Homo sapiens: one gene and its partners. The protein of the gene in region 1 purifies or fractionates together with the protein of each later gene. This does not show direct contact. Each region holds a gene or a part of one and is shown on either strand. Other genes may lie near its edges. The genes, in order: HDAC2, ARID4B, MIDEAS, ING1, MIER2, CDYL and MIER1.

Region 1 (3,500 bases):
TGAAAAAGATACAGCATAGACAGACGACTGGTCCCAGGACTTAACTCCCGAGAGAAGAGAATTTAGGGCAGAACTATTGTTCACTGATGAACCCAAACCCTTAGAACAGTACCTGCTTGGCACATGGTAGGCTCTTGATTTATTAAATGAATGGCTGAACTGAAAACCCTTGATGTTTAAAGGTTGGTGGAGGAGTGGCCTTGGGGTACAAGTAAAATCCCAAGAAAATGGTATTATGGAAGCCAAGGCTCCGAATGTCTCAAGGAGGAATAACCTCCTTGAAATATGTATTAAAGATGTGTTAATATGTATAAAAAATGGATAGTGGGCTAAGTAGTCTGGAAGATGAAAATAATAAACTTTTTTCTTTTCTCTTGTTTTTTTTTTCCTGAGTCTCTTTTTGCAGTCAACTTATCTTTGTGGCTAAAGGTACATTTCACAGTTCTGAAATCCAAAATGACCTGAAAATTGAAAAAAATTTTGGTAACTCATTTGGAATCAAAATCTTAACCTGAATCAATGTGAGGCTATTTATGATCTTTATTCCTCTGTGAATACCGTGAATATTCACACTTTTTTGCTGTAGAAATATTAATGTTTGATTATATCATGCCACCCAAACTCTAGGCTATTACATAATATATGGCAGGTGTACCATATTATCTCTACAAAATCTGAAAAAGTGTAAAATTTGAAACATATCTAATTTGAAGGAATATGGATAAGAGATTGTGGACCTTAGTAGACACTTCCATTCTGTTAGTTTCTTGAAGAGTGAGCAATTTGTAAAATTTTGCAGATAAATAATTCTTTACAGTAATTTCTTTGCATTGACAATTAAAGTTTGTTGTGTTCAAGGAACCACCTTGAGCTGATTTTTCTGAATGTTTATTTCATTGGTAAAGTATTTTTATGTACAGGTTGAATATCCTTTATCTGAATTCTTGGGACCAGAAGTATTTCAGATTTGGGGAGGTTTTGCAATATTTGTAATTATTTACCAGTTAGCATCCCTAATTCGAAAATCAAAAATTTGACATGCTCCAGTTAGCATTTCCTTGACTATTAAGTTGGTGCTCAAAACAGTTCAGATTTTGGAACATTTTGGATATCAAATTTTTGGATTAGGGATAATCTGTATTTTGATGCAAATCAGTAACATTTAAAATGCCCAAATTATTAATACATTACTGACCATTTAAATGATGAATAAAAATTGTAGGGTCTTAAAACTTCTTAGCCTTTTTATACTTTATGAAAAAGTGGGCTGGGCACAGTGGCTCACATCTGTAATCCCAGCACTTTGGGAGGCTGAGGCGGGCAGATCATCTGAGGTCAGGAGTTTGAGACAAGCCTGGCAAATATGGAGATACCCCGTCACTACTAAAAATACAAAAATTAGCCGGGTATGGTGGTGGGCGCTTGTAATCCCAGCTACTTGGGAGGCTGAGGCAGGAGAATTGCTTGAACCCCAGAGGTGGAGGTTGCAGTGAGCCAAGATCACATCACCGCACTCCAGCCTGGGTGACAAGAGCGAAACTCCATCTCAAAAAGAAAACAAAGTGGATGCCTACAAAGTAGCCATCTAGAGAATTGTGAGATACAGAATTAGTGGGAAAAAGTTGGAGATGGTTATTTTATAACGCCTTTATATTTTAGAAGAATTCTTTTTTTTTTTTTTTTTTGATACAGAGTCTCGCTCTGTCACCCAGGCTGGAGTGCAGTGGCACGATCTCGGCTCACTGCAACCTCCGCCTCCTGGGTTCAAGTGATTCTCCTGCCTCAGCCTCCTGAGCAGCTGGGACTACAGGCGCATGCCACCACACCTGGCTTTTTTTTTTGTATTTTTAGTAGAGACGGGGTTTCACAATGTTTGTCAGGAAGGTCTCGATCTCTTGACTTCGTGATCTGCCCGCCTCGGCCTCCCGAAGTACTGGGATTACGGGTGTGAGCCTCCACGCCCAGCTAGAAGAATTCTTGGTAAACCAAAAAATTATCTGTAGCTTGGCTGCCCTGTATACATGTATCATTTAGGTTCTTTGTGTATTCTTTGTGGGACTGGGGTCCCTAAATTTCAACAGAGAAACTTGTTGAAAGCTATGCGTATTCGTATACGATTTGAGGACCCTATTAGTAAAAAGTAAATTACTCTGATATATTAGGTACAGTTTCTTGTGTTCATTTTCTTTAAATTAACCAAGACCCTAAGCCTTTATTTAAAATATTTATATTTCATATTATGTCTTTTTTTCAGCCTTCACCCTGCCATTTCTAGTGAATCTGTAAGTGTCCTTGACATTCCCTGTTGTTATTACTTAAGAACATTAGCTGTGAGCTGCCCTGCCAGAGTTTGAATCTAGCTCCTCCACTTGCTGGCTATGTGACTTAGGCAATAATACCTGACTTGTCTGTTTCTCATCCTTCTTTACTATTATACAATAGGAATAATGTAATAATACCCACATCATAAGGTTATTGACAAGATTAAAAGATATGTGAAGTACTTAATAGTGCCTTCTAGTAAGCACTCAACAAGTGTTAATTACTGCTTTTTTTTTTTTTCAAACACACTTGCTCAGAAATTGCTACTGTAGTCTCCAATTATTGGGGCCTGGGGCTTTTCACTGGATTTTCAGTGTGCATCAAATAACTAGAGTATTTGATGTTATGATGTGGTAGATGTTAGAGACATTTCATTTGGGTAATTGTTACACAGAGGCAGATAGATGGAAGTTATTGTTTAGTTTGTGTCTTTTCTGTTTTAGGTGATATTGGAAATTATTATGGGCAGGGTCATCCCACGAAACCTCATAGAATCTGCATTTCTAGTGAAGACTAGACTTTCATTATTTTTACTTTAATGATTTCTTTAGTAGTGATAACTAAGAAATGCCTTCCCTTGTATTAATTTAATTACATGATGCTTTGTAATAACACTAGTGGGTTTTCCATATCTAAGAAATGATGAGACCAGGCTGCTTTCAAGGAACTATATATCCCTTGTATTGTCACCATGTAAGGTAGAGCTTTATGGTAGATTCTTTCTTAATAGGTAGTTTATTTTCTGCAATCATAGCCTCTTAATTATAATTGCAGAGGAATGTTGCAAAGGGCCATGGCCCTGCTTTGCTAAACTCTATATTGTTTCTTAGCCTTGTTGGCACCTGCATTAAAAAGGTGGCTTTCCCTTTAAAAGACTTTGTATATGAATTGTTTTCAGAAGAGAGCTGTGCTGAAAATGAAGTTAACTAAAATTAGAGGTGTGATACCAACAAAATCAAGTATTTATGTTATTAGAAGCATGGATTTTGTAAAAGCTGATTGTTTATCCCGTACTGTTATCAAATATGTAGGAGAGAGGACAAAAAAGTTTTTGGGGTTGTTTCCATTAAACAAACAAAAGGTGTATTTAGGGAGGACTTTGAAAGATTTAGTGGATAAATTGCATTTTTTATTCTAGCTTTTATTGTAATATATAAACCCGTGTTGAAATGATAGAC
Region 2 (3,500 bases), on another chromosome or scaffold:
AAAAAATACAAAAAATAGAAATTAGCCAGGCTTGGTAGCGGGCGCCTGTAGGACGCTGAGGCAGGAGAATGGTGCGAACCTGGGAGGCGGAGCTTGCAGTGAGCCGAGATCACGCCACTGCACTCCAGCCTGGGCGACAGAGCAAGAGTCTGTCTTAAAAGAAGTAGAATTCAGGACCTAGTAACTCATCCTGGGGTAGGAAGAAGATGGAGGTTTTTTTCTTAGGAAATTAGATAGATGTTACTGTCATTTGAAGCATGCTGTCATTGGACCTGCTAGTTAAGATGTAAGAGTAAGTAGGTAGGATGAAGTCAGAGGCTTGGTTAATCTGGTGTGAATGTTAACCTCATATCTATGATATTTGAAGGGATTTAAGATCCATAACATGGCAAATTTTGTGCTATAAATTTGTGGTCCTTTAGATGAATAGGTAATCTTGTAAAATACTAACATGTTTTCTGTCCAAATTGCTAAATCTTTGTTTATTGTAATTAAAAAAAATACTAGGTGAGTACCTATGTCACTGAAGAATGTTTTTGCCAAGTCAGCCAGTGAATTCAGTCATTGAACACATTGTGTACTTTCCTTGTACCGGACATTGTTCTGGGTTTTGAGGATGCAGCAGTGAATAGAACAAGAGTTCTTACCCTCGTGGAGTTTACTTTCTACTATGGTGGACACACGTTAAGAAAAAAAATAATGCTAAGTGCTTTGAAGAGAAATGATACGGAATCAGAATAAGAGGTTAGAGTGACAGAGGGTGGGTTACTTTAGATTAGGTGATAATGGAGGGCCTTTTCGAGATGACATTTAAGTGTGCTGTGAAACAAGTGATAGAGTGAGCCATTCAGGTTTCTGGGGGAGGAGCATTCCCTGCAGAAAACAAGTGCAAATACCCTGAGATGGAGTGTGCTTGGCATGTTTGAGTGTGATACATTTAAGGAACATTAAGGCCATCAGGGCTGGAGTGGTAGGAGAGGAGGTCAGAGAGGGTCACAAAGGGCCAGTACAATTGTAGGGCCTTATAGGACATGGTAAGGACTTGAGTAAAATCTGAATGTGTTAGGAACCCTTTGAAGGGTGTTGAGTGAAGTGATGTGATAAACATTTTCAAAAATGTTTGACTGCTGGGTAGTGAACACATCATGGGTTCGAACAGATCATGGGAACACAAGAGTGGAAGTAGGGAGATCAGTCAGAAGGCTGTCAAGCTAGTCCTGGGGAGAGATGGTGGTGAGGAGAAATAGTAGTATTGGGAATATATTTGAAGATGGGGATGATTGGATTTCAATGGATTGGGTGTGAAGGGAAAATTCTACTTACTGCAACTTGCACATGTATGTCCTCCCACAAGTGCCCTCCCTCCTTTTCTTTTGAGACGGAGCCTCTCTCTGTTGCCTAGGCTGGAGTGCAGTGATGTGATCTCGGCTCACTGCAGCCTCTGTCTCCCGAGTTTAAGTAATTCTCTTGCCCCAGACTCCCCTGTAGCTGGGATTACAGGCACCTGCCACCACGCCTGGCTAATTTTTTTTGTATTTTTTGTTTTTTTTTTTTTAGACGGAGTTTCGCTCGTTACCCAGGTTGGAGTGCAATGGCACGATCTCGGCTCACTGCAACCTCTGCCTCCCAGGTTCAAGCGATTCTCCTGCCTCAGCCTCCCAAGTAGCTGGGACTACAGGCATGTGCCACCATGTCTGGCTAATTTTTGTATTTTTAGTAGAGACGGGGTTTCACCATGTTGGCCAGGCTGGTCTCAAACTCCTGACCTTGTTATCCACCTGCCTCGGCCTCCCAGAGTGCTGGGATTACAGGTGTGAGTCACCTCGCCCGGCCTTTTTTTTTGTGTTTTTAGTAGCAATGGGGTTTCACCATGTTGGCCAGGATGGTTCTGAACTCCTGACCTTAAGTGATCCGCCCGCCTTGGCCTCCCAAAGTGTGAGCCACTGCACCTGGCCGTCCTCCCTTTTTTTAAAAAAGTCTTTTTGCTGTGATTAGTTGGTAGATGGGATTCTTGGAACTGAGTATGACCATGAAGGCATTGTCAAATCTTAGCCTTCTCAGTGAGCAGTGAACATTGAGTTGAGCAATCCTTTCACTTGTTTTTTTAATTAAAAAAAATGAGATATAATTCACATACCATAAAATTCACCCTTTTATTTTATTTTTTTTGAGACATGGCCACAGTCTGTTGCCCAGGCAGGAGTGTAGTGGCGCAATCACAGCTCACTGCAGCCTTGATCTTCAGTGGGCTCATGTGATCCTGCTTCAACCTCCCAGGTAGCTGGGACCAGAGGTGCACGGCACCATGCCCAGCTAACTTTTAAATTTTCTGTGGAGGTCTCACTGTGTTGCCCAGGCTGGTCTTGAACTCCTGGGCTCAAATGATCCTCCCATCTTGGCCTACCAAAGTGTTGGGATTACAGGCATGAGCCACCGCGCCTCACCAAATTCACCTTTTTAAAGTGTTCATAAATTTCTAGTATTTTCACAAGTTTGTGCATCCATCACTACTATCTTTTGAAAACTTTTTTGTTAATTTCTTTTGTTTGTTTTTTTAGAGATGAGGTCTTGCTGTGTTACCTAGGCTGGCCTTGAACTCTTGTGGTCAAGTGATCTTTCCCCCTCAACTTCCTGAGTAGCTGAGACTTCAGGCACGTTACTTATCCCTAGCTATCTGTCACTGCTATTTAACTCCAGAACATTTCCAAATTCCCAACAAGAAACTTCTTATCCATTAGCAGTCATTCACTGTTCTCCCTTTCTTTTATCCCTCCAGTAACTAATCTAAATTTTTTTTTTGAGAAGAGTTTTGATTCTGTCACCCAGGCTGGAGTGCAGTGGCTCGACCATGGCTCACTGCAGCATCGACCTCCTGGGTTCAAGCGATCTTCCTGCCTCCAGCTCCCAAGTAGATGGGATTACAGGTGTGCGCCACCATGCCCAGCAAATTTTGGAATTTTTTGTAGTAGTGAAGTCTCACTATGTTCCCTAGCCTGGTCTGGAACTCCTGAGCTCAAGTGATCCTCTTGCATTGGCCCCCAAAGTGCTGGGATTACAAGATTCAGACACTGAGCTTAGCATTTACTTTCTGTCTATAAGGATTTGCGTATTCTGGGCATTTTCTGTTAACGGAATCCTGTAATACATATGTGGCCTTTTTGTGTCTGATTTCTTTTACTTCCCATAAGTGAAAGAAGTAGCAAGTGTTGACCAGGCGCGATGGCTCACGCCTGTAATCCCAGCACTTTGGGAAGCCGATGTGGGTGGATCACGATGTCAGGAGTTCAAGACCAGCCTGGCCAAGATGGTGAAACCCCATCTGTACTAAATAAAAAAATTAGCCGGGTGTGGTGGTGGGCGCCTGTAATCCCAGCTACTCAGGAGGCTGAGGCAGAGAATTGCTTGAACCTGGGAGGCAAAGGTTGCAGTGAGCTGCGATGGCGCCACTGCACTCCAGCCTAGGTGTCAGATCAAGACTCCGTCTCAAAAAAAAAAAAAAA
Region 3 (3,500 bases), on another chromosome or scaffold:
GCCTGGCCCTGCTGAACTCTGTGGTATATGGGCCTGAGCGGACCTCAGCAGCCATGCTGTCCCAGCAGGTGGCCTCAGTAAAGTGGCCCAACTCTGTGATGGCTCCAGGGCGGGGCCCGGAGCGTGGAGGAGGTGGGGGTGTCAGTGACAGCAGCTGGCAGCAGCAGCCAGGCCAGCCTCCACCCCATTCAACATGGAACTGCCACAGTCTGTCCCTCTACAGTGCAACCAAGGGGAGCCCGCATCCTGGAGTGGGAGTCCCGACTTACTATAACCACCCTGAGGCACTGAAGCGGGAGAAAGCGGGGGGCCCACAGCTGGACCGCTATGTGCGACCAATGATGCCACAGAAGGTGCAGCTGGAGGTAGGGCGGCCCCAGGCACCCCTGAATTCTTTCCACGCAGCCAAGAAACCCCCAAACCAGTCACTGCCCCTGCAACCCTTCCAGCTGGCATTCGGCCACCAGGTGAACCGGCAGGTCTTCCGGCAGGGCCCACCGCCCCCAAACCCGGTGGCTGCCTTCCCTCCACAGAAGCAGCAGCAGCAGCAGCAACCACAGCAGCAGCAGCAGCAGCAGCAGGCAGCCCTACCCCAGATGCCGCTCTTTGAGAACTTCTATTCCATGCCGCAGCAACCCTCGCAGCAACCCCAGGACTTTGGCCTGCAGCCAGCTGGGCCACTGGGACAGTCCCACCTGGCTCACCACAGCATGGCACCCTACCCCTTCCCCCCCAACCCAGATATGAACCCAGAACTGCGCAAGGCCCTTCTGCAGGACTCAGCCCCGCAGCCAGCGCTACCTCAGGTCCAGATCCCCTTCCCCCGCCGCTCCCGCCGCCTCTCTAAGGAGGGTATCCTGCCTCCCAGCGCCCTGGATGGGGCTGGCACCCAGCCTGGGCAGGAGGCCACTGGCAACCTGTTCCTACATCACTGGCCCCTGCAGCAGCCGCCACCTGGCTCCCTGGGGCAGCCCCATCCTGAAGCTCTGGGATTCCCGCTGGAGCTGAGGGAGTCGCAGCTACTGCCTGATGGGGAGAGACTAGCACCCAATGGCCGGGAGCGAGAGGCTCCTGCCATGGGCAGCGAGGAGGGCATGAGGGCAGTGAGCACAGGGGACTGTGGGCAGGTGCTACGGGGCGGAGTGATCCAGAGCACGCGACGGAGGCGCCGGGCATCCCAGGAGGCCAATTTGCTGACCCTGGCCCAGAAGGCTGTGGAGCTGGCCTCACTGCAGAATGCAAAGGTGAGAGTGGCATGCAGTGGAGCCACACCTGGCAGAGGGCATCAGGCTGATAGGTGGGCGGCTGCAGGATTTGCTTCTTGCCTAGGGAAAGCCAGACTTTGCCCTAGCCAGCTGCCTGTGGGAAAACAGTACAAAGACCACCCTTCACCTTGCCACAGGGTTCTTGCTTACTTTCTTTTGCAGAAATATTTTTTGAATAATTAGATACTATTTCAGATACAGATAGATACAGATCACCGGGTTCAAGTGATTCTCCAGCCTCAGCCTCCCCGAGTAGCTGGGATTACAGGCGCCTGCCACCATGCCTGGCTAATTTTTGTATTTTTAGTAGAGACAGGGTTTTACCATGTTGGTCAGGCTGGTCTCGAACTCCTGACCTCGTGATCTGCCTGCCTCAGCCCCCCAAAGTGCTAGGATTACAGGCGTGAGCCACCGTGTCCAGCCAGAAGCACTTTCTATAGAAGAGAACAGTGTGAGGCTAGGCGCAGTGGCTTATGCCTATAATCCCAGCACTTTGGGAGGCCAAGGTGGGTGGATCACTTGAGGTCAGGAGTTGGGAGACCAGCCTGGCCAACACAGCAAAACCCTATCTCTACCAAAAAACACAAAAATTAGCCAGGTGTGGTACTGCACGCCTGTAATCCCAGCTACTGGGGAGGCTGAGGTGGGAGAATCATTAGAACCTGGGAGGCAGAGGTTGCAGTGAACCAAGATTGTGCCACTGCACTACAACCTGGGTGACAGAGTGAGACCCCCTGTCTCCAAAAAAAAAAAAAAAAAAAAAAAGTGGTCGGAGAAAAGGTAGTCAGGGAAAAAGGTCAAGTTGTGAGACCACTGGGAGCCACTGTGGGTGTTTGAGTCCCGTGACTAAATGGGAATGAGGGTCCTAGATCAAATCAGAATTTATCTTTTATTTGTTTATTTATTTATTATTGAGACAGGGTCTCACTCTGTCACCCAGGCTGGAGTGCAGTGGTTCGATCTCGGCTCACCGCAGCCTTAACTTCCTGGGCTCAGGCAATCCTCCCACCTCTGCCTCCCAAGTAGCTGGGACCACAGGAGTTTGCCACCATGCCCAGCTAATTTTGTTTTATTTTCTGTAGAGACGAGGTGTCACTATGTTGCCCAGGCTGGTCTTGAACTTGTGGCGTCAAGTGATCCTTTAATCTTGTCCTCCCAAAGTGCAGGAATTATAGGCGTGAGCCACTGCGCCTGGCTATGACTTACCTTTTAAATTGCACTTCTGTTCCCATCTTGTCCAGGATGGCAGTGGTTCTGAAGAGAAGCGGAAAAGTGTATTGGCCTCAACTACCAAGTGTGGGGTGGAGTTTTCTGAGCCTTCCTTAGCCACCAAGCGAGCACGAGAAGACAGTGGGATGGTACCCCTCATCATCCCAGTGTCTGTGCCTGTGCGAACTGTGGACCCAACTGAGGCAGCCCAGGCTGGAGGTCTTGATGAGGACGGGAAGGGTCCTGAACAGAACCCTGCTGAGCACAAGCCATCAGTCATCGTCACCCGCAGGCGGTCCACCCGAATCCCCGGGACAGATGCTCAAGCTCAGGTATGAGAGGCGCCCCTTCTAAACACCTCCAGCGCGTGAGTGCTCAGGGGGCCCAGGACCCTATGGGGAAAGGAGAACATGGCAATGTAGGAAGGTATCAGGGAACCTGTGGAGATACTATTTTTATTTTCCAAACCAAACTTCTGGACAGACGTCCAGAAGGGGCATTTGGAGATGTCCCCCTCCTAATGGGGGATGAGACAGTTTTATACTTGAAATTGAAACTGCCTAGAATTGAATTCTAGGTTGTGTACATCTCTTTTTCCAGATCAGCAAATTCTGATTTGGCCCGTGCTGGGTGCTGGGAATGAGAGGTGTTTGCTTGTACTGTCACTACTGAGATCTTGACATCTTTTTTTTTTTTTCTGAGGCAGAGTCTTGCTCTGTCACCCAGGCTGGAGTGTAGTGGCGCAATCTCGGCTCACTGCAACCTCCGCCTCCTGGGTTCACACCATTCTCCTGCCTCAGCCTCCCGAGTAGCTGGGACTATAGGCGCCCACCACCGCGCCCAGCTAATTTTTTGTATTTTTAGTAGAGATGGGGTTTCACCATGTTAGCCAGGATGGTCTCGATCTCCTGACCTCGTGATCCGCCCACCTCAGCCTCCTAGAGTTTTGGGATTACAGGTGTGAGCCACCGCGCCTGGCCGACATCTCCTTCTAAGATTGAGGTTTTGCCTACTTTTTCTTTAGGT
Region 4 (3,941 bases), on another chromosome or scaffold:
TACTAAGCAAAAGACGTTTGACTTCCTACAGAGTAGGTCTGTGGAAGTCTTTCAGAACTACGCGGCAGAGCTCAGCATTTACACCGAAGTCCAAGGAGCTGTGACCCTTGCGACAGATTCGCTCGCTTCTCGGCGCTCCCAGCTGCGCCGCTCCAGTACTCCCGGGGGGGCAGGACTGTGATCTTTCCTGAAGCCAAAAAGTTCATCACCCTAGGTGAACATGAAGCAAGCAGCAAGCCAGGCTCTCCCCAGCAACGACAGGAGGACAAAGTGGCTCCATGAACTTTGCTGTCTGGACAGCTGGAACCCTGCACCCCGCCCCGCGCTACTTTTTTCTATCGTCGAACGATCAAAGTGGTCTCAGCCCCTGCCTTCCTTCCGTCCGGAGCCCCAGGGTCACCCCACGGGGCCCGTCCGGCCCGAGGACAGCACCTTCCAGAAAAGTTTCTGCGCCGAGGGTCCCCCTCGTGGACGCAGCCCCAGTCACTCACGTTTCCACGGCCACGCGCGGCCCCACCCTCGGGTCAGCAGAGATGCGGCCTGAAACTGTCTCCGAGCCGGCCCCGCGGGTCGCGGGAGGCGGTCCGAACTGCAGCCCCGGCCCCGAGCCCACAGGCCCGGGATCACTGCTACTGCTATAAATCCGCGCCCGAAAGTGGCCGGGCTGAGCGGGGAGAGGGGCCGGGGCGACACCCGCCAGGCCTCCAGCCAATGGGGAGGAGGCCAGCGGGAGACTCGCCCCGCACCCCGAGAGCCGCCGCCTATGGGAATCGCCGATTTGGAGGGCGGAGGCCAGGAGGAGAACCAACCACACCGCAGGGCGGAAGAGCACGGCCCGCCCCAGCAGCGAGAAGAACCAATCCAAGGCTGGAGGCCGAGCGACCCGAAGACGTTCAAATCAACTCGTCCACCCTCCACCCCGCTCCTCCCCGAAAAAGAAAAAAGAAGACAGCGGAAACACAGACCCATACCAGTTATTGCGCTAGGCCCGCCTTCATCCGCCTCAGCGACCAATCGTTCCGCAGGGGAATGATAAGGACATTCCACGAAGGACATCACAGCCAACTACTGGGGGGCTGAGGCGGGACGTTCCATAATATGCTAATGAAGTTCCTATAAAATTCGCTGCGAAGCTACGTCTCGGATAGAACGCGCAGGGGCGCCTTCCCGGCAGAGGCGTCTAGTACTTTCGGGGATAGCGGTCAATTTTTTTTTTTGCCCCCACCCAACTCTTCCGTTTCCCTACTGCGCAGCCTTGTAAACATTAGTAAACTCCGAGTGGTGATCCACATTCAAAACAGAGCCCCCAAAGCCTTGACTGACCTCGCAGGAAAGTTTCCCCAACAGCCAACAATTCCCGGCGGACACGAACTCGCCACCTCTCTCTGACACCCGGGGCGGCCAGGTCTGCAGAGAACGACGCACAGGTCCTCTCACCTGCCACAGTCCTCTCCAAGCCAGCGATCTGCCCGCGCCCCCCCGAGCGCAGCGCAGATGGGCGCCTTCCCCGCCTCCGCTCCTCCCCTTCCCTTCCCTTCCCTACGGCACACAGAGAAAAGCCCTCGTCCTCCGCAAACTACAACCGGCGGCGTCGCCCCTCGCAGTCGGCCCCTACTCGGTGTCCAGCTCCAAGTGAGGGCCGGAGGGGGCTGGGCGGGGGCGGCCGACCTACCCCGAGCGGAGTACTACCCGGTACTTTATGTAACACTCAGATTCGGGACTGAGTGGGGGGCGACGAAGAAGGGCCAGAGGAACGGCGTTGCCCGGGACCGAGGCACCGGGTCCGCGGGAACCCCGGCCCACAGCCGCCCTCCTCCTGCAGCCCCGTCTCGGCGCCCTATAGCCCCAGGCGCCGGCACATCCCTCCATCTCGCGCCGTAATCTGCACCCCCTCCTAGAGGACGCGGCTTGGACCCGCCGCCCCCTCCCCCGCAGCACCCGCCTCATCACTTCACTACAAAGAGCGCTTTGGTCGCGCAGCCTTGCAGCGAGACCTCTCGCGCCTCCTTCCTCCTCCGTGTCCCGGGCTTTGCACACAAGGACCTTGGCGAATCAAAGGCGCTCCAGACCTTTTGTTCCTGCCCCTGCCGAGGGCCGCCGCTGCGGAGCCGGCCGCTTCCTCCGGTCCACGGCAGGACCGGCCCGGCTCCGCGGCGCGCCCGGACCCGCCGGGAAGGAGGCGGCCGCCCCCGCCCATCCATCACCCGGCCGTACCTTGGTATTTCGCGTCGATCTCCCGCATCAGCGAGACATTTCTCTGCAAGTCGAAAGGCAGGGACTCGATGGAGTCCAGGTAGTCCTCCACATAGTTCACCAGGTGGAGCTGCTCCCCGTTGGCAGGACTCAACATGGTTCACCCCGGAGGTCCCCGGCGACTCGGCGCGGCTTTCCGCTTCCTCCACCCCCCGCCCCCCTCAAAAAATAGCACTGCAAAATGCAAAGCCCTCGCTCTCCCGGCGCCCCCCCGCCGGCTCCTGCTTCGGCCCGGCGGCTACATCTGCCGAGCCCGTCCGCCGCCTCCGGGTCCGCGGGGACCCCAGCGCCTGAGGGCGCGGGCCGCGGTGGCGGTGGCTCCCGGGCGCACGCCCCGGCCGGCGGCGCAGGCCCCCTCTCAGGCGGCGGGGCTGGCGCCGGGGGCCGCGCGTACGAGCGCGCACACACCGGCGGGAGAGGGCCCAGCGCCGCGGCCGCCGCTGCCCACTCGCCCACTGGGCTGGGTAGAAGAGAGGAGCGGAGCGGGCAGCGGGAAGGGGCGCGCTCCGCTGGCCGCCGAGCCGCACTTGTCCAACGTGGAAAACCCAAATACCAGTTTCAAACACTTGGGAAACATTCAGCCCCGCTGCGCAGCGCGCATGCGCCCCGGCCCCCTCCCCCGGCAACGGCCCCGCCCCCCGCCGCATTCACGCCCCTCACCGTCCCAGGCCCTGGGGGCTGCGGGCTCCAGGCCGGCCCTCGCGGGGGCGTGGCCTTGCCTGTCACTTTTTCCAGAGGCGAGGGTCGCGGAGGGGACAGCGTCAGGGCCGCTGGGGTGTGGACGGCGGGCGAGGCGCAAACTTTACTAGGAGTTTTTGGCACTTGGAGGCAGAGCCTGTTGGGCGGCACAGCACGCCCGCTGGGAAACGCAGGGGAGCGGCCTGCTTCGCTGAAAACCCGACCAGGACCTAACGGGCCGCGGGACAGAAACCTCCGAGACCATGGTACACAGCAACTACCGCAACTCGCTCCTCAGCCCCTGACTCTTCGTCCCCGCCCCACAGAGCAGTATAAGTAGGGCCCGAAACAGAACTGGCAACCGCAGTAGCCAATCTACTTGCCAACATCACTTTGACAGCCCAATCACGATGAAGAGGAGGCGGGGAGACCGTGAGTAATGCCCCCCGGACTCTTACTACTAGAAACCCAAGTCCTCCGGGAGGCGGAAGGAAGGGGAGGGCCGGGCACGGGCGGAAGTGGCGGCGCATGCGCACTGGCACCCTCTCGGTGTCCTTTGAGCTGCGGCCGCAGAGTGCGCGGGAGACCTACCCATTCCGCGGCCGGACCACCACTCCCAGCAGCCTAGGCGGCTCCCGCGCCTGCGCCATCCGTCACCGCCCTCCCTTTGTGTCGTCTCCCGGTACTCAGTTTGGAACGGCTTGGAGACAAAGGGGCCTGAGAGGGAAGCTGCTTCCTAGTGCCGAGCCCCAGAAGAGGTGGATAGGCCCGAGGGGCGCCTTCCCTAGGCCTTATCTCTTCCCGCCCTGTGTCATGGACACCGTTCTCGGAGGCCGCTCCCCACACTTGGAAAGGCCGCCCACAGTATGCAGACACCCGGTCGGCCGGCGTCCTGAGGCCATTCAGCTCCCCGGACCGCCCTCCCCCGCGTCGCCCCTCTACCCTCCCAAAGCTCCCGGATTTTGGGCTTTCTGAGAAGCCTGGACGCCACGCGAGCCCGTTGCCTAGGC
Region 5 (3,500 bases), on another chromosome or scaffold:
TGAACACAGAGAAGCCTGCGAGGATTTGGGGAGCAAGTGGACTAGAAAGAGACCAACACCCATCTCGTTAGGGTAGAAGGAGCAGCAGGACTCAGTCGAGGTGGGTTCACACCGGACTCCATGACTCCTGAAACGGGGGTGACGCTGAACCCTCACCTGCACAGGTCAGTACAGCATCAAGGAGCATGCAGGGACAAACCAATGGGGGCTCGACAACACCAGTCCCTTAAGCTCCGTCTGCAGGGCCACATGAAGAAGACATGCGATGTACATGGCCCAACAGTTGACGGCTGTCATCAGATCCAGGGTTTCCCCGAAAGAACTGGGATGTGTCACCATTCCTCTGCATGTTTACTCTCCAATTGGTCAAATTTTTAAACAAACAAAGGAAATAGCTAGGGCTCAATCAATCCAGACAGAGAGCAGTGTAGGCCAAGGCTGGGGGCCTGAGGGCCTGGGAGTCCAGGGCACGAGGCCTCTAGGGCAGCCACACAGCCTGTAGGGCTGGGCACACAGGTGTGCACCACACACAGCCCATGCACAGAACATGCAGCTGCAGGGCACAGAGGACCCCCAGCGGCAGGCACCTCGTTAGAGTGAGGGAATGACCTGGAGCTGAATGGGTGCGCCCGGACCCTCAGTGGCCACCGCACCCTTGGAGGAGCCACGTGAGGGAAAACAGGGATGGCACCGCCTTCTCTGGGGACTCGGGTGGTGACTAGTTTGATACGGAAAGAGACGCAGCCCTACACCTGGCAGAAGGAGCCCAGCCAGGGGAAGAACAGTCATAGAGACCCTTGCCCTACAGCGTCAGCTCCTCCCCGCAGGCCCAACGCAGGTGGCTGGCAGGCGGGCATGGGACCTTGATGCCCACTGGGCAAGCAGCAGCGCAGGGAGGTGCAGGGAACCCGGGGTGCTGCCTGTCTCGCCGCCCTCCACCTTCTCAGCCCCGGCTCCCTCAGCAAGCCACCCCTTCCCAACACCCTGGCAAGATGAGGCAGCCCTCAGCTCGGTGCAGGCGTGTGCCCGGGTCCTCTGCTGGGGGTGCTGGGCTCTGAGGATGGTCTTGGGTCGCCTGGGCTCCCTGCCCCTGCTAAAGAACAGGAAGACGGGAGTCCTGACCACTCTGCCCCACAGCTCCATCTGAACGGGTGGGAGCTGGGACACCCTGGACTCTGGAAGCCAGTGTGCCGGTCCACAGCTCAGCCAGGCCCAGCAGGCATTCTGTCTCTCACAGCCACAAAGGCCTTGGCGGACCTGAGCAGGGGAAGGAGGGAGGAAGGTACCTGCTGTTGTCTGCAAGCCCGGCTCCCCTGGGCACAGGCTGTGCTCGAGGCAGGAGACCACGCGAGGACTCTGCCTCCCCAGCGAGGAGGCCTGCGAAGGAAGAGAGGCAGGGTTAGCTCGGCCGGCCCAAAACCTGCTGCTGGACATCACAGTGTGGCAGCCAAGAGCAAGCGCTGGTCAGAGCCCAGTCCCCAGTGACCAGGGAAGGGGCTTTGTCTCCGCCTCTGAGGGCTGGGGGGCACTAGGAGCAGCACACGCATGTGGCCGCCACTCGCCCCGCCTCCCACCAAGGACCGCTCACAGGGTGGAGGCGTTCTCGCCCAGGGCAGGACATGCATCATGTGACACTGAAAACTGCCCACACACAGGCCTACAGTCCTGACCCATGCTGCAACCTGGATGAAGCTCAACAACAGCATGCACTGGGAGGGAAGCCAGACACCAACGGCCACAGCGTAGGGTCCACTGATACCAAACATCCAGAACAGGCCAGTCCACAGACAGAATGGGGGCTCGTGGGGGCCAGGAGCCAGGGAGAGAGACAGTGGGAGAGTGACTGCTAACGGGGACAGGGCTTCTTTTGGGGATGACAGAATGTTTTAGAATCAGATAGAGGTGATGGTTGCATGGTCGTGAATACACTAAAAATCAATGAATTATAAACTTTAAAATGGGCATATTTTATGGTTTGTCAATTACAATTTTTTTTTATAAAAAGGCAAACAAAACCATTATAAGTTACCATTATCACAATGTTCAATATCTCTCTTTTTTTTTGAGACAGAGCCTTGCTCTGTCGCCCAGGCTGGAGTGCAGTGGCGCAATCTTGGCTCACTGCAACCTCTGCCACCCAGGTTCAAGTGATTCTCCTGCCTTAGCCTCCCGAGTAGCTAGGACTACAGGTGCGCACCACCACGCCCAGCTAATTTCTGTATTTTTACTAGAGATGAGGGTTTCACCATGTTGCCCAGGCTGGTCTCAAACTCTTGACCTCAAGTGATCCGCCCGCCTCGGCCTCCCAAAGTGCTGGCATTATGGGTGTGAGCTACCGCAAGCCACGATATCTCTCATGTACATAAACACAAAACCCTCAACAAAATACTAGCAAACTGAATCCAGCAACACATAAAGATGATTATAAGCCACGACCAAGTAAGATTTACCGCAGGGATGCAAGGTCGATTTAATATCCAAAAGTCAATTAATATAATACATCACATCAATAAAATAAAAAAACAAAACACAGGATCATCTCAACATACCCAATCCAACAAAATCCAACATACTTTCATAAGGAAAAATACCCAACAAACTCAGAACAGAAGGGAGCTTCCTTCTTGGAAAAACCCATACTTATCATTGCCCTCAATGGGGAAAGGCTGCTTTCTCCTTCACACCATGAGCACCACAACGTGTACTCTCACCTCTCATGCTAAATGGAGGGCTGGATGGTGTAGTCAGCGTAAAAGCATCAAATAAAAAGAATCAAGATCGGTAAGGAAGCCGGGCACGGTGGCTCACGCCTGTAATCCCAGCACTTTGGGAGGCTCAGGCAGGCGGATCCCTTGAGGTCAGGAGTTCAAGACTAGCCTGGCCAACATGGTGAAACCCTGTCTCTACCAAAAATACAAAAAAATTAGCCAGGCATTGTGGCATGTGCCTGTAATCCCAGCTACTCAGGAGGCTGAGGCAGGAGAATTGCTTGAACCAGGGAGGCGGAGGCTGCAGTGAGCCGAGATCGTGCCACTGCACTCCAGCCTGGGCAACAGAGCAAGACTCCATCTCACAAAAAAAAAAAAAAAAAAAAAGGCTGGGCGCAGTGGCTCACGCCTGTAATCCCAGCACTTTGGGAGGCCGAGGTGGGCAGATCACGAGGTCAGCAGATGGAGATCATCCTGGCCAACAAGGTGAAACCCTGTCTCTACTAAAAATGTAAAAATTAGCTGGGTGTGGTGGCGGGCACCTGTAGTCCCAGTTACTCGGGAGGCTGAGGCAGGAGGATCGCTTGAACCCAGGAGGCAGAGGTTGCAGTGAGCCGAGATCGTGCCACTGCACTCCAGCCTGGCAATACAGCAAGACTCCATCTCAAAAAAAAAAAAAAAAAAAAAAAAAAAAGATTGGTAAGGAAGAAGTAAAACTATCTCTGTGCTGGTGCTGGTGACATGATCTAAAAAACTATTCAAACTACAGTGAGTTCAGCAAGGTTGCAGTAC
Region 6 (3,500 bases), about 110 Mb from region 1:
CTGATTAACCTGGGTGGAGCTTGTCCACTCTTGCTGACAAGTCCAGGGGCTAAGGCCAAGTCTCAGCCCTCTCTGCCTCTTGCTCCCGGCTGCCCCTCTGCTTGCACCCATGTCCCTGCCCCTCACCTGTGAGAGTGTTAGCACGTGGACGGCTGCCTGTGCCAGGTACTGTGGCTTCTCCACCTGGCCTGTTGGGGGGTGGTCCCTCATTGCCAGCTGGGGAGCCGTGCAGTTTCTAAACCTCTCTCTTCACCCTCGGTCTGTCCACTCCCCTCGTCACAAGGTGGTTTCTCTGGAAGCTAAGATAGATTTGGGAAGCAGGGTCTGGTAGATTAGGTGCCAGCGTCCATGGAAGGGCAGAAAGGAAGCAGGATTGGGCAGAGCTGACTGACAGGGAGCTCTGGAACCACGTGGCCTCACGGCGGTTCCCGGTGCCCCACTGCAGTTGGCCGTGGGGTTGGCGGCCCTGGGAAGAGCGGTCCATGGGGGAGGCCCTGAGCTCTCTGTTGCCTGCTGACAGCACTTCCCACAGCAGGCAGTTTGCTGGGGTGGGGACGTGGGTGGCTTATCCAAGTCATTTGCTTTGTCCTTTACACCGTACTGCACGCACCTGACACCACCAGACTCCCATGGTAGAGTCATTATCAGTAAAATCAGTTCATCGTAGTGATTACTGTAAACGAGACTGTGTCCTGCCAGTTAACCCTGTCCCGGCAGGAAAGAATCCTCATCCTCTGGAACATCCCGTGAATCTCATTTTGAGTTATTTATCCAAAGGAGGTTGAGATCTGAGGTTCTGACCCCTCCCACTGTATGATCTATGTAGATGTGTGGTGTCGGTGCAGATGTGGGGCAAATACTAAACCACCTTGATGTTCAGACACATTTTGGCCAAAGACATTTTGGAAGTGGAGCCCTGGAGCTGAATGCTGCTCAGGGGTAGAGGTGTCAGAGTTCACCATTCCCAGAAAGGGCCATGAGGCTTGAAGTCATCACAGGACGAATGCCTGCCCTCTGGTCAGCCGTGTTTCTCCCTACTCTACAAGCCTTGGCAGATCTTTACTTTACGCTTCCCCTGGAGATGTACTGGTGCCTCTTGAGCTGCTGCTTTCAACTGGGCAGTTTTCACCCCCGACCTCACCCCTGGGGAACAATGTCTGGAGACAACTTGGTTGTCACACATGAGGAGATGGCCGTTAGCAGAGGCTGGGGTACTGCTCGGCACCCTCCATAGCCCACGGGACAGCCCTGCTTAGCACCCTGCATGTAGCCCCCACAGGACAGCCCCCACACCAAACAACAGTCCAGCCCAGAATGTCCCTAGTGTCCAGGGGGAGAAACCCTGCTCTAACTCAAGAGCGAAGAGCCTGCATTTCACTCGGCGTGAATTCTACACTTTCTGAGCAGAGTATCTGACGAAGCCTCTCTACAGAAAGTGAATAAACGTTGTTCAGATGACTTCGACAACTCTTGTTGAAAGTGACTATGCAGATGATGTAAATGATGTCGTTCCTTTCATGAGCCTTTGGTGTACTTGAGCTTTCAGCAGCCTGAGGCAAGACTGGACAAGTGTGGTTTTCCCCACTTTGCATGTGCAGAGCTCTGCCAGGAGGATAAGCTAAAGGAATCACATTATCAAGATAAAAAGAATATGCAAATAGTGCAGGCTGTGTGGCCTCTCCTTTCTTACAGCAGGCCCTCCGCTGTAGGCGAGGGCTACGTAAATCAGCCAAGGAGTCTCTTCCAGTTTAGCCTTCCTGGTGCCCAGTAGACATTCATGGAGTGCATGGAGGATGGCACGGTCTGACGCCCACAGGCTCCCACGTGGAAATCTTGCACCTCTCAGGGGCCTGCTGGGGTGTGAAGCTGGAGAATGCCCAGCGAGTACCTGAGGGCCTTACCCCACGCTCACACCTTGAGAGCCCTCTCTTGGGGACTTCAGAGACTGGCCTGAGGGAGCAGGTGGTAAAACCTCTGCCACAGCAGTCCCCATAAGGCTGAAGATTCCTGGATCCCCTCTGCTCATACTGGGCCAGTTTCCTCGCCACCCGTCCTGCTGTACTCTGGCCAAACTAAAAAGACATCTCTATTTAACTTTCCTCGGCATTTCCCATCTCTCTGGATGGTTCCAGGATAACTTTCTTTTAATAGTTGGACAACTTTGACCACATCATGGGGTGATGTAGGTTGTCTACAGGGAGTCCCTGTGCACTCAGCCATCTCAGAGCAACGTGCTAGCTGGTCAGGTTCCCACCGCCTGCATCTGTGTGAATCGGTTATTTGGGTAGAAGTTTGAAACCTCTCATTTTGAAACTACTGAAAATAGTGTGTTTATATAAGAATATGCTCACGCAAATTGCGTGTATTTAATCCTATAATACATATCTTACCAAGGGAGATTTGTTGTTGTTGTTTTCTTGGGTGACTGTCGTTCAAACCAACTCACTGGCCGTGTTTAAGTGAAAAAGCTTTAACAACCTAGCGTGAGCCCTGTCATTTTTGCTCTTGAGTAAATTGAGAAATGCCCTTGCTTGTCCTGCACATCCAACCACCTGGAATGGAGAACACCGAAGGTAGGGAAAGGATCTCCAGGGATGAGCAGGCCTGGAGCCGGCGGGGCTGTGGAGGAAGACCGGCCGCAATGAGTGAGTGCTGAGCAGAGAGAAGGGCCGTTCTCGGCTGGTATCAGGCCCAAGAGAGTCAACAAAGGGGGGACGAAAGGGAGACAGGGAAGAGAACAGTGGTGGGGCTGTAAGTTGACCTCCAGGTGGCAGAAAATAAAGTTGGAAGAATTGACTGGGACAGACAGCCAGGGCCCTGCAGGAAGGGCGGGAGAGGAAGCCTGCGGACACCTGCCCTTTGTGATTGAACCGCAGACACCAGGCCTGGCGGGGTCGCTTGCCTCCGCTGCCCAAGCTAAGGCTCCACTAAGCTGGTCCTGAGAACATACTTCATGCTCAACTTCAGGGATGTGGCTGTAGTGTCCTCACTCTATGCTGAGAATGAAAGAAGCACAGTCTATGAAAGGAAAACCCCGACAGCACAGAGCACTTCGTGCGGCAGCAGCACACCGGGAGTCCCACTCCCTTTCCTGCTGCGTTTGGATCTGCCGTGACAAGGACTATCAGAACCACTCACAGTAAGGTCGGGTCGCGTTTCTAAATCCACTGTTTATGGACCGTCTTTTCACTGAGAAGAAGCTCGTCAGTTCAGGGGTTTCTAGAACTTCTCCAGACTCTTCAAAAACTCATGACTTTCTCCAAGTTGGTAATCCCAGCACTTTGGGAGGCCCAGGCGGGCGGATCACGAGGTCAGGAGATCGAGACCATCCTGGCTAACACAGTGAAACCCCGTCTCTACCAAAAAATACAAAAAAAAATTAGCCGGGCGTGGTGGCGGGCGCCTGTAGTCCCAGCTACTCACGAGGCTGAGGCAGGAGAATGGTGTGAGCCTGGGAGGCGGAGCTTGCAGTGAGCCGATATTGCACCACTGCACTCCAG
Region 7 (2,565 bases), on another chromosome or scaffold:
CCTTACCCCCATGAAGTATTACTGTTAACATATGTTCGGACTGCTTCCCTTCACCAATGTGAACAACTTTTTTTCCCAAACAGTGTTAAAAGCCACTTTGCAACACTTGACTTCATCTTAATGTACATTCACTGTTGTTACATACATATCTAAGTAAATCAAAGTTTTGGGTGGAAGTGTTGAGAAGTATGAGTTTTTTGTTGTTTTTGTTTTACTTAAAACTTTTAATTTATCCAGAATGGCAGTAGCTTTAGCAAGCAGATGGTCACAATCTGTTTTCTAAATCATTTTTTATTAAATGAATCCAAAGTATCCTAGCTCTTTGTCAAAGATGGTCTGTAGAAATGTTTTTAAAGATTAGGGATGCTGTACTTTTTGAATTGTTGCAGTGTTGGAGATGCCATTTTCACCTTTTTAAAAAGATGCATTTTATTTGCAGGTTTGTGAAGTTCTTGCAAACTCTTACTACAGAAATGTTTTAAATACATTCTCAGGCATGTTTGCAAAAATATGGCACATGTATACATTTTAGGAAATGTTACTTTTGTTAATCTTTAAAAAATACACCTAATGAAAGACATTCCACTATTATGCGTAATGCTCAGCTTTTTGTAAAGAAATATTTAATTGTATTTTGTGTTTATACAGGTATTTCACACAATAATTTGTTCTTAATGCAGCCACTATAACTTGATAAGTCATTGCACTATTTAAAAAGTTTTAGTAATATCATGAATTTAATTTGCTTAAGATTTAGTACATTTCAGAACTTTTGAACTTTTGACAAATTGCATTGGAAAAAGAAGTCTGTTAATAGTGATTTAGTCTCCCCGCCTCATTCCCACCCCCAACAAAGCACTATCATTTTCATTTGGAATGGGTATTTTCTGTTTCATGATGTATTTTCAAATAGAGTTCAGGATCTGCAATTCAGTTCAACACAAGTTTGTTGAGCTTTAAAATGTATTTGAAGTAATATTTAAATAGGCATTTAAAATTTCAAATTAGATGTTAAATTTATGCATAGTAATTTTGCACTGTAAAATAATTCCCTTCTCCCATTCCTTGTCTGCCATTCTGAATATGCTTATTAAAATATTTTTTTAAACATATTTGCCTACATAATACTGTGTGAATATTTTCATTAGATTAATTCACTAAGATTTTATTAGAGATTGTTTGAATGATGCATGTTATTGACAAGGCAAATATATATATATACACAGTCTGTTTCTTCTATTCCTAGACATATTGCACTACTTTTTCAGTGGTTCTTGGTCCCCTTTACCACATCTTGGGTGATGTATTTTTGTCTTCTTCCCCTTTGCCACAAGAGATCCTTTCAGTCCCTAGACCTCCATTCACTCTGTTTCTCTTCTGCTGGATTATATAATTTAAAAATAATGTGTTCCCGTATTTTGTAGTGGAGTTCATATCACATTATGTTTTGCAAAATAAAACTTGTTTTGTCACAATATTTTCTTTGCTATCGATGGATAATTAGGAGTGGGCACTTGGAATAACTGAGGGCTGGTGAATATAATAGGCAATATTTACATGGGGTGTGTAACTAAATACCAAATCAGATAGTAAGGTTTTCCCAACTATAATCCATATTCATGAAAAATGCCAGTGTGGAAAACCATGTAACATACAGAAGAACAGGAGTTTCCAAATTTTAACCTTTTATTCTAAAAATGACTCTCTTCTCTCAAAATGACTTTTTCTGTATCACATAATTCTACTGATACAACTTTTTACCGTAAAAATTAACTCTCTTCTTTAATATCAAGTTCATCCTTTGCAGAATCTTAAAGGGTTTTCCACACATCCATCCACCCACTTACAGACTGATTTCATGTATCTGAATATCTGATTAACCTTTCTTTTCTAATACCAGTTTTCCATAAACTCTTGTCATGTACCCTTAGTATTGTGCTGATCTTTTGCCAACTATACGGACGTGGAGTTTTTCCTTTTCAGAATATGATTATTTTCAATTTGTCTTTAGTTAGTATAAAGAATTATAGAATGTATAATGTAATTAAAATGTCATTTTGCTTGCTCTTGAGTAAGAAGTAATTTGAACACACTTTTAAAGGCTACTTATTCTGTGAAGAATATTGAAGAATTGCCATGTAAACGAGATGAGATGGATTCTAATTGTCCAAATTGATGGTGACAGTTTCACATTTAAATGTCAATGATGACAAGCTTTCATTATGTTTCCATATACTCTAATATCCAGCAAATATTTCGGCCTATACTTGTACCAGGTACTATGCTTGCTTGGCTTGTGGCTTCAGAGATGCGGCATGCCCTGTTCTTCAAGAAGGCAGCAAAGTGTTAATGGTAGAAAAGTAAAGTGTATTCTGAGTACAGAGACAGCAAAAAGAGGAATAGGCACGATCTCAAGAAAATGAGTTTACCTTCCTCTTTGCCATGTAAGTCTAGCTAAATATTTTTCTTTTGTCAAACTTCGTATTTGCTGGAAATTAACCAACATGAAATGCATGATTTTCCCTAAGAAATTTTGTCTTTTAAAAAAAAAATTTCCTGCAGAGC

The links.
Region 2: the proteins of HDAC2 (region 1) and ARID4B purify together in Homo sapiens (affinity purification with mass spectrometry; 4 studies listed by BioGRID and IntAct, with this or other methods). This does not show direct contact.
Region 3: the proteins of HDAC2 (region 1) and MIDEAS purify together in Homo sapiens (affinity purification with mass spectrometry; 5 studies listed by BioGRID and IntAct, with this or other methods). This does not show direct contact.
Region 4: the proteins of HDAC2 (region 1) and ING1 purify together in Homo sapiens (affinity purification with mass spectrometry; 5 studies listed by BioGRID and IntAct, with this or other methods). This does not show direct contact.
Region 5: the proteins of HDAC2 (region 1) and MIER2 purify together in Homo sapiens (affinity purification with mass spectrometry; 5 studies listed by BioGRID and IntAct, with this or other methods). This does not show direct contact.
Region 6: the proteins of HDAC2 (region 1) and CDYL purify together in Homo sapiens (affinity purification with mass spectrometry; 6 studies listed by BioGRID and IntAct, with this or other methods). This does not show direct contact.
Region 7: the proteins of HDAC2 (region 1) and MIER1 purify together in Homo sapiens (co-immunoprecipitation; 6 studies listed by BioGRID and IntAct, with this or other methods). This does not show direct contact.

The regions. Positions count from the first base shown.
Region 1 is NC_000006.12:113,961,149-113,964,648, reverse strand, and holds part of HDAC2 (histone deacetylase 2), read left to right. Parts: intron 1-2,254; exon of another isoform or gene 2,255-2,282; intron 2,283-3,500. UniProt on the Homo sapiens protein: Histone deacetylase that catalyzes the deacetylation of lysine residues on the N-terminal part of the core histones (H2A, H2B, H3 and H4).
Region 2 is NC_000001.11:235,318,180-235,321,679, reverse strand, and holds part of ARID4B (AT-rich interactive domain-containing protein 4B), read left to right. Parts: intron 1-3,500. UniProt on the Homo sapiens protein: Acts as a transcriptional repressor. May function in the assembly and/or enzymatic activity of the Sin3A corepressor complex or in mediating interactions between the complex and other regulatory complexes.
Region 3 is NC_000014.9:73,736,304-73,739,803, reverse strand, and holds part of MIDEAS (mitotic deacetylase-associated SANT domain protein), read left to right. Parts: coding exon 1-1,244; intron 1,245-2,471; exon of another isoform or gene 2,472-2,506; coding exon 2,507-2,806; intron 2,807-3,500.
Region 4 is NC_000013.11:110,712,559-110,716,499, reverse strand, and holds the start of ING1 (inhibitor of growth protein 1), read right to left. Parts: upstream 2,801-3,941; 5' UTR 2,351-2,800; coding exon 2,215-2,350; intron 1,489-2,214; exon of another isoform or gene 1,057-1,488; coding exon of another isoform or gene 492-1,056; intron 1-491. UniProt on the Homo sapiens protein: Cooperates with p53/TP53 in the negative regulatory pathway of cell growth by modulating p53-dependent transcriptional activation. Implicated as a tumor suppressor gene.
Region 5 is NC_000019.10:334,797-338,296, forward strand, and holds part of MIER2 (mesoderm induction early response protein 2), read right to left. Parts: intron 1,378-3,500; coding exon 1,287-1,377; intron 1-1,286. UniProt on the Homo sapiens protein: Transcriptional repressor.
Region 6 is NC_000006.12:4,947,404-4,950,903, forward strand, and holds part of CDYL (chromodomain Y-like protein), read left to right. Parts: intron 1-3,500.
Region 7 is NC_000001.11:66,986,555-66,989,119, forward strand, and holds the end of MIER1 (mesoderm induction early response protein 1), read left to right. Parts: 3' UTR 1-2,065; downstream 2,066-2,565. UniProt on the Homo sapiens protein: Transcriptional repressor regulating the expression of a number of genes including SP1 target genes. Probably functions through recruitment of HDAC1 a histone deacetylase involved in chromatin silencing.